2 linked regions of the Homo sapiens genome follow. The protein of the gene in region 1 interacts with the protein of each later gene in a biochemical or structural test. Each region holds a gene or a part of one and is shown on either strand. Other genes may lie near its edges.

The links.
Region 2: the proteins of APAF1 (region 1) and NUP107 form a complex in vitro, tested with the Homo sapiens proteins (one study listed by BioGRID).

Annotation. Positions count from the first base shown.
Region 1 is NC_000012.12:98,679,790-98,683,289, forward strand, and holds part of APAF1 (apoptotic protease-activating factor 1), read left to right. Parts: intron 1-487; coding exon 488-613; intron 614-3,353; coding exon 3,354-3,485; intron 3,486-3,500. UniProt on the Homo sapiens protein: Oligomeric Apaf-1 mediates the cytochrome c-dependent autocatalytic activation of pro-caspase-9 (Apaf-3), leading to the activation of caspase-3 and apoptosis. This activation requires ATP. Isoform 6 is less effective in inducing apoptosis.
Region 2 is NC_000012.12:68,735,478-68,738,977, reverse strand, and holds part of NUP107 (nuclear pore complex protein Nup107), read right to left. Parts: intron 1-3,500. UniProt on the Homo sapiens protein: Plays a role in the nuclear pore complex (NPC) assembly and/or maintenance. Required for the assembly of peripheral proteins into the NPC. May anchor NUP62 to the NPC. Involved in nephrogenesis.

The sequences.
Region 1 (3,500 bases):
GGCACCTGGAGCTGCCTGCCCCGCTGCAGCAGTCAGCACGTCTGTGCGCAGTGGCTGGACCCCACGCTCACTCACACACGCCTCGCTGTTCCACGCCTGACTCGCCCTTGGCAGGCTTGGGACCCAGGCTGGTAGTGTGAGCTGAATGCAGCCTGTCAGGCCAAGTGGGTGAAACAAGACCAGTGGGCCCAAGCAAAACTTGGGCAAAGGCGCCACCGGCCACAGAAGTTTCTGGCCAGAAAATCAACACCCCAAAGATCCTGTAACATTTTCATTGATATTTACAAACATGTAACAGTGAATAGTTCTCTAGTTATGTGAAGGCATACACATTCTGACAGAAATTCTGATTTTGGGAGTAGCTTTGCCAAGGTTCCTTTCTGTTTTGCAAAATGACAATGATTAAACTCACTTAAAGATTTTTATTGAATGATGACCAGTAGTTAAGCAGTTTATTATAAAAAATATTTTATTGTTACTTGTGCAGGTGTTCAAAGCTGAAACAGGAGAGAAACTTCTAGAAATCAAGGCTCATGAGGATGAAGTGCTTTGTTGTGCATTCTCTACAGATGACAGATTTATAGCAACCTGCTCAGTGGATAAAAAAGTGAAGGTAGGAAAATCTTTTCCTCTTGAGTTGTAATCACAACAGAATTCATTTTATTTTTCCATGATCATGAGACCAGAGTAAGTAGAGTTAAAGGACTCTCACCTGTTGATCTACTAACCTGATTCATTGTAAATTAACACTATCTGAAAATTCTTTACTTTTTTTTAAAGAGACAGGATTTTGCTCTGTGACCCAGGCTGGAGGGCAGTGGCATGATCATAGCTCACTGTAAACTCCAATTCCTGGGCTCAAGTGATCCTCCTGCCACAGCCTTCCAAAGTGTTAGGATTATAGGTATGAGCCACTGTGCGTGGCCTGAAAATTCTTTATTTTTAAACACCAGCAAAAATGCCTAGGTTGATCACCTCAGGATTAAACAAGCAGTGGGGAAAAGCAATGACAAATTAGTGAGTTTGTCTTCCATTAATAGACAAGTCCATGGGTTAAATATCAGTTGAAATCTTTGAGTGCATTGTGATTAGGAGTGTTGCTGCACAAACTTGGGGATTCCTGTTGTAAGATACAATTTTAAAATGCAACCCCAATTTTTTTAATTTGCTTATGAACTGGCTTATATATTCAGTGGAAAACCAGGTGGATGAACAAACTAATAATTACGTTACTGGTCTAAAAACATAAATAGAGAAAAGTAAACAGAGTAATTTTTACTTATTTATTTTGAGGCAGAGTCTTGCTCTGACACCCAGACTGGAGTGCAGTGGTACAATCTCGGCTCACTGCAATCTCTGCCTCCAGGATTCAATTGATTCTTATGCCTCAGCCTCTTGAGTAGCTGAGATCACAGGTGTGCACCACCATGCCCAGCTAATTTTTGTAGTTTTGGTAGAGACAGAGTTTTGCCATGTTGGTCAGGCTGGTATTGAACTTCTGGCCTCAAGTGATCCGCCTGCCTTTGACTCCCAAAGTGCTGAGATTATAGGCATGAGCCACTGTGCCCCGCCAGAGAGTAATTTTTATTTTTGTTAAGTATTCTCTTGTTCCTAAATTTGGCTTCTACCAGGAGCATTTATACTAATATAGAATTCAAGAGAAACTGAAGGCTTGTGGGGGTTATCACTGATATATGGAAGACAGACCTTACTTTAACCCTTTTTCAAAGGGGTTAAATCTGGAGTACTGGATGTAGCTAGGTGGAGTGGGCAAGAAATTTGCCTTGGGTGTTTTCCTGAAGTTTTCACCTACTGGAAGAGGGCTATGGAATGTCCAGACTAAATTTGAGACCTTGGAAAAATCTACCTCTTGATAGATTGGACTCGTGGCTTAACCAACAGTTAATTCACTCTGTAGTGTCTACTCTGACTCTGAGTCAGACTTGGAGGTGGCCACTGAGGGCAGTTCTAAAGTCAGAGCTACATGGAGTAAAAGGAAATAATAATGAGTTTCTGTTTTCTAAGCCAGAGGTAGAAATACCTATTAAAGAACTTTAAAATAAGATAAACTCTCTGGACCTCTGGGGATTCTAATCAGTGCTTTGATAACATACAAAGGAAATGCCAAAGGACATTAGTACCTCTAAAAAGTCAAAATCCCAGTGAAGGTTCATTAGGTAATTTATTTCTTTTGTTTGTTGTTATATGGCATAGACTGCTTAGTTGTCTTACATAGTAACTAGAATGATGATTAATTTTTTTGTTTTTTTTTTTTTTTTTTTGAGACGGAGTCTCGCTCTTTCGCCCAGGTTGAACTGCAGTGGCGCTATCTCGGCTCACTGCAAGCTCCGACTCCCGGGTTCATGCCATTCTCCTGCCTCAGCCTCCCGAGTAGCTGGGACTACAGGCGGCCGCCACCGCGCCTGGCTAATTTTTTGTATTTTTAGTAGAGACGGGGTTTCACCATGTTAGCCAGGATGGTGTTGATCTCCTGACCTCGTGATCTGCCCGCCTCGGCCTCCCAAAGTGCTGGGATTACAGGCGTGAGCCACCGCGCCCGGCCTGATGATTACTTTTTACTGAAAACTGAACACTATAAGAGGCTATAAATACTACACACTTTGTCATATTACATTATCAATTTCCTGCTACAGCTTGCAGGGTTAAGTGTCGATCCCGTTTACAGAAGAGGACGCAGATTCAGAGATGAAGTCTCTTGCTCAAGCTTACATTAAACTGGGAACAGTAATAGGGTTGAAAGCTGGGTTTCTCTCAGACTATAAAACCTTTATTTTTTTTAACTAAGCAATCTGCCTTTACTTATTTATATGGTACCTTGAAGTCCATAGAACACTTGTCATGTTCATTATCTCATTTGATATCTTAAATTGTGTGGGAGAGGTATAGATATCCCCATTTTACAGAAGAGGGAACTGAGATGCAGGTAAGTTAGGGATTTGTGACACACAAGTCATAAGTGGTAGAGCCAGCTCTTGGGCTCAACCCTTCTGACCAGAAATCTATTATGCTAACCTCTTTAAAGCACTTCTCTGCCTGCTTTCATTCATATAAACATGTGAAATCTTGCCCTTAAGAAATGTCATGTGTTCATGACACTCTAGTTATGCTATAGGTACATATATGTATATTTGCAAATAATTTTTTTTAAACATTAAGGCAAAATATTGCCATATTTTAGAAAGGGGAGAGGTTTCATTAGCATCTTGTCCAACTAGGAAAATCTGCTATGACAGGATAAGATAGCATTTGCAAAGCAATGGACATTGCTTTGCCCCTCTGTTCTCCCTTTGAAAATAATGGATATTTGTAAATTTTTTCTCTTTTCTCTTTAGATTTGGAATTCTATGACTGGGGAACTAGTACACACCTATGATGAGCACTCAGAGCAAGTCAATTGCTGCCATTTCACCAACAGTAGTCATCATCTTCTCTTAGCCACTGGGTCAAGTGACTGCTTCCTCAAAGTAAGTGTGGATATT
Region 2 (3,500 bases), about 30 Mb from region 1:
AAAAAAAAAAGAACAAAACAAAAGTATGTATACTCTTGTACATCAAGAAAAGAAAGATTTTATTCCAAGTGCAATAAGAAGGCATCAGAAAGTTCTGGGTAAGACAGTCGCATGTATTTTATTCTGAAAGGGTCACTAGTCCATCTGTATAAGGAACGATTGTATAAAGAACAGTGAGAAGCCACGGAAGACAGTAGAGGCTTGGACTAGAATGTGCTAGAGGTAGAGGTAGTGAAAGGTAGGTAAAGATGACCTGCCTGCTCCATTCTCTCTGCCATTCCTCTGTGCCACCAGCCCCAACACTAAGGGGACTATTCCAGTTATTTAAAAACTTGAGGGGTAGCTATACGAAAACAGCACATAATGCTAGGGCTATTGTGTACAGCCGTGCCTTGTACAAGGGTGGCTGGCCAAGCAAGTAAGTGGGGCTGAAATCTAGCCTGTGTTCTGTCTTACATATTGTGTGCACTTGCCATGGAACCTATCTATGTAAGGGAAGGGAATTCCAATTTTTTTTTTTTTTTTTTGAGACGGAGTCTCCCTTTGTTGCCCAGGCTGGAGTGCAGTGGCGCAATCTTGGCTCACTGAAACCTCCGCCTCCCTGGGTTCAATCGATTCTCCTGCCTCCACCTCCCTAGTAGCTGGGATTACAGGCGCGAGCCACCACACCCGGCTAATTTTTTGTATTTTTATTTTTATTTTTGAGACAGAGTCTCGCTCTGTTGCCAGGCTGGAGTGCAGTGGCGCAATCTCGGCTCACTGCAACCTCCGCCTCCCAGGTTCAAGTGATTCTTCTGCCTCAGCCTCCCAAGTAGCTGGGACTACAGGCACGTGCCACCATGCCTGGCTAGTTTTCTGTATTTTTAGTAGAGACAGGGTTTCACCATATTGGCCAGGATGATCTTGATCTCCTGATCTTCTGATCCACCAGCCTTGGCCTCCCAAAGTGCTGGGATTCAGGCGTGAGCCACCGTGCCCGGCCAATTTTTTGTATTTTTAGTAGAGACGGAGTTTCACCATATTGGCCAGGCTGGTCTCGAATTCCTGGCCTCACGTGATCTGCCCTCCTCGGCCTCCCAAAAGTGCTGGGATTATAGGGATGAGCCACCGTTCCCAGATAGAATTACAATTTTCTAATTCACATACAAGTGACACGTGTTAGCAGGGGCCTTGAACAATGCCCTACGTCATTGACTATGTAAGAGTATTAGGCTCAACAAAGGTGATTAAAATGTTATTAATCATTTAACTGTTCAAGAAATCTCTTTTCTGGATTAGTTTTAAAGAAATAATTGAGACTGAAGTTTTAAAGAAATAATTGAGACTGAATATTGATTTTAAAATCCCTGATGAAACAAAATGGTGTATCATTCATTGCCTTCCATCTCAACTCCATTTTTTTTTTTTTTTTTTTTTTGAGACAGGGTCTCACTCTGTCACCTAGGCTGAAGTGCAGTGGCACGATCTCGGCTCACTGCAACCTCTGCCTCCTGGGTTCAGGCCATTCTCCTGCCTCACTAGTAGCTGGGACTACAGGCATGCACCACCACACCAGGCTAATTTTTTTGTATTTTTAGTAGAAACGGGGTTTCCCCATGTTGTCCAGGCTGGTCTCAAGCTCCTGACCTCAGGTGATCCACCCACCTCAGCCTCTCAAAGTGCTAGGAGTACAGGCGTGAGCCACCACGCTTGGCCTCAACTCTAATTTTATGAGATCCCAAGACTATTTTGTGGCTTTCACTACCTAATCTACTTAATTAATAATTAGAATAGCAAAGATGTATGTATAAATAAAGCATTGAAGTCTTTTCAAAATTTAAGTGACACTTAATTAGCATTTTACAACATTAAAATTTTATCTTCAAGAGAATCAGCATGAATCAGATGAGAAAGGTTTTGCCAGAGGAACCTGTGGAAGGTTTAAAACGAGTCAAAGGAGTTCTATTACGAACGTTAGGATAAAAAGTGGAGACTTGGCTGGGCGCAGTGGCTCACGCCTGTAATCTCAGGCACTTTGGGAGGCCAAGGCAGGTGGGTCACCTGAGGTCAGGAGTTCGAGACCAGCCTGGCCAACATGGTGAGATCCCATCTCTACTAAAAATACAAAAATTAGCTGGGTGTGGTGGTGGATGCCTGTAATCCCAGCTACTTGGGAGGCTGAGGCAAGAGGATCTGGGAGGCGAGCCAAGATTGTGCCATTGCACTCCAGCCTGGGCGACAAGAGCAAAACTCTTTCTCAAAAAAAAAAAAAAAAAAAAAAGGTGGCGACACATTGACTCATGCCTGTAATCGCAGCACTTCAGGAGGCCAAGGTGGGAGGACAGCTTGAGGCTAGAAGTTCAAGACCAGCTTGGGCAACACAGCAAGATCCTGTGTCAAAAACAAACAAACAAAAAAGCCAGGCATGGTGGTGTGTGCTTGTTGTCCTAGCTACTGGGGAGGCTGAGGCAGAAGGACTGCTTGAGCCCAGAAGTTTGAGGCTGCAGTGAGCTATGATGAAGCCACTGTCCTCCAGCCTGGGTGATAGAGCAAGACCTTGTCTCTAAAACAAAAAAAGAAAAAATAAAGTGGAGACATTTAAGATAATTACTCCATCAGTAATAGTGGCAAATAGGGGCTCAAATTTAGTTCGCTGTCCTGCCTGTATTCTTTTTCCTCCTTCTGGTCAGAGAAGACAGGCTAAAAAAAAAATGCAATAGCTAAAATTAAAGAAAAAGTACTAAATAGATGAGGGTATGAAGAATGGCAAAAGGAAAGATACCAAGAACACTTACTGTTTTCTTTGTTCAAAATAACACATCAAATATCCAAGAAGCCAGTATTTCCAGCTCTCAGACAGCTCCTCAGGTCTACAGAGGATAAACTAAGCTACTCACTGTTTCTGTCATGCACCAGGGTCAGGCTGCAATGTCTTTCCCTTATATGACTATTATCTCAGTATCCTTCCTTTCTCCCATCTCAGCTCATCCAAATTCTACCAGTATGTTCAAGATTCAGTCAAATGCTATACATTTCAAGCATACGTTCCAGTTCCCTTTCAGGTGAAAACAATCTTTTCTTTTCCTGGACTCAGAAAATACTTAACCTGTGCCTTTCTTATGGCACTTGATACTTCTGTAGCTGGTTCTCAACACAGGCTATATATTATATTAAAGCACTGCAAGTGATTAAAAAAACAAAAATAAACCCCAGCCCTACCTCAGACCAATTACACCATAATCTCTGGGAGTGGAACCCTGTAGTGTTTTTAAAAAGTCTGCCAGGTCATTAAAATGGACAGCCCAGAGGTGAGAGCCCCTACCTTAGCTATGCCTTACTGATACTACTCGAGTTATCTTTATATCTGTAAATGGAGTGACATACATGTATAATTAAATTTTTAGGTCCAGAATTTTTTAAAAATTAGATTTTTGTATCCTCTGTGAACATAGTAAATGTGAACTAATAGTTTATCCAAGAATCAAATATTCCCATTCCCTAGGTAGTATTTTCAGTTTAGC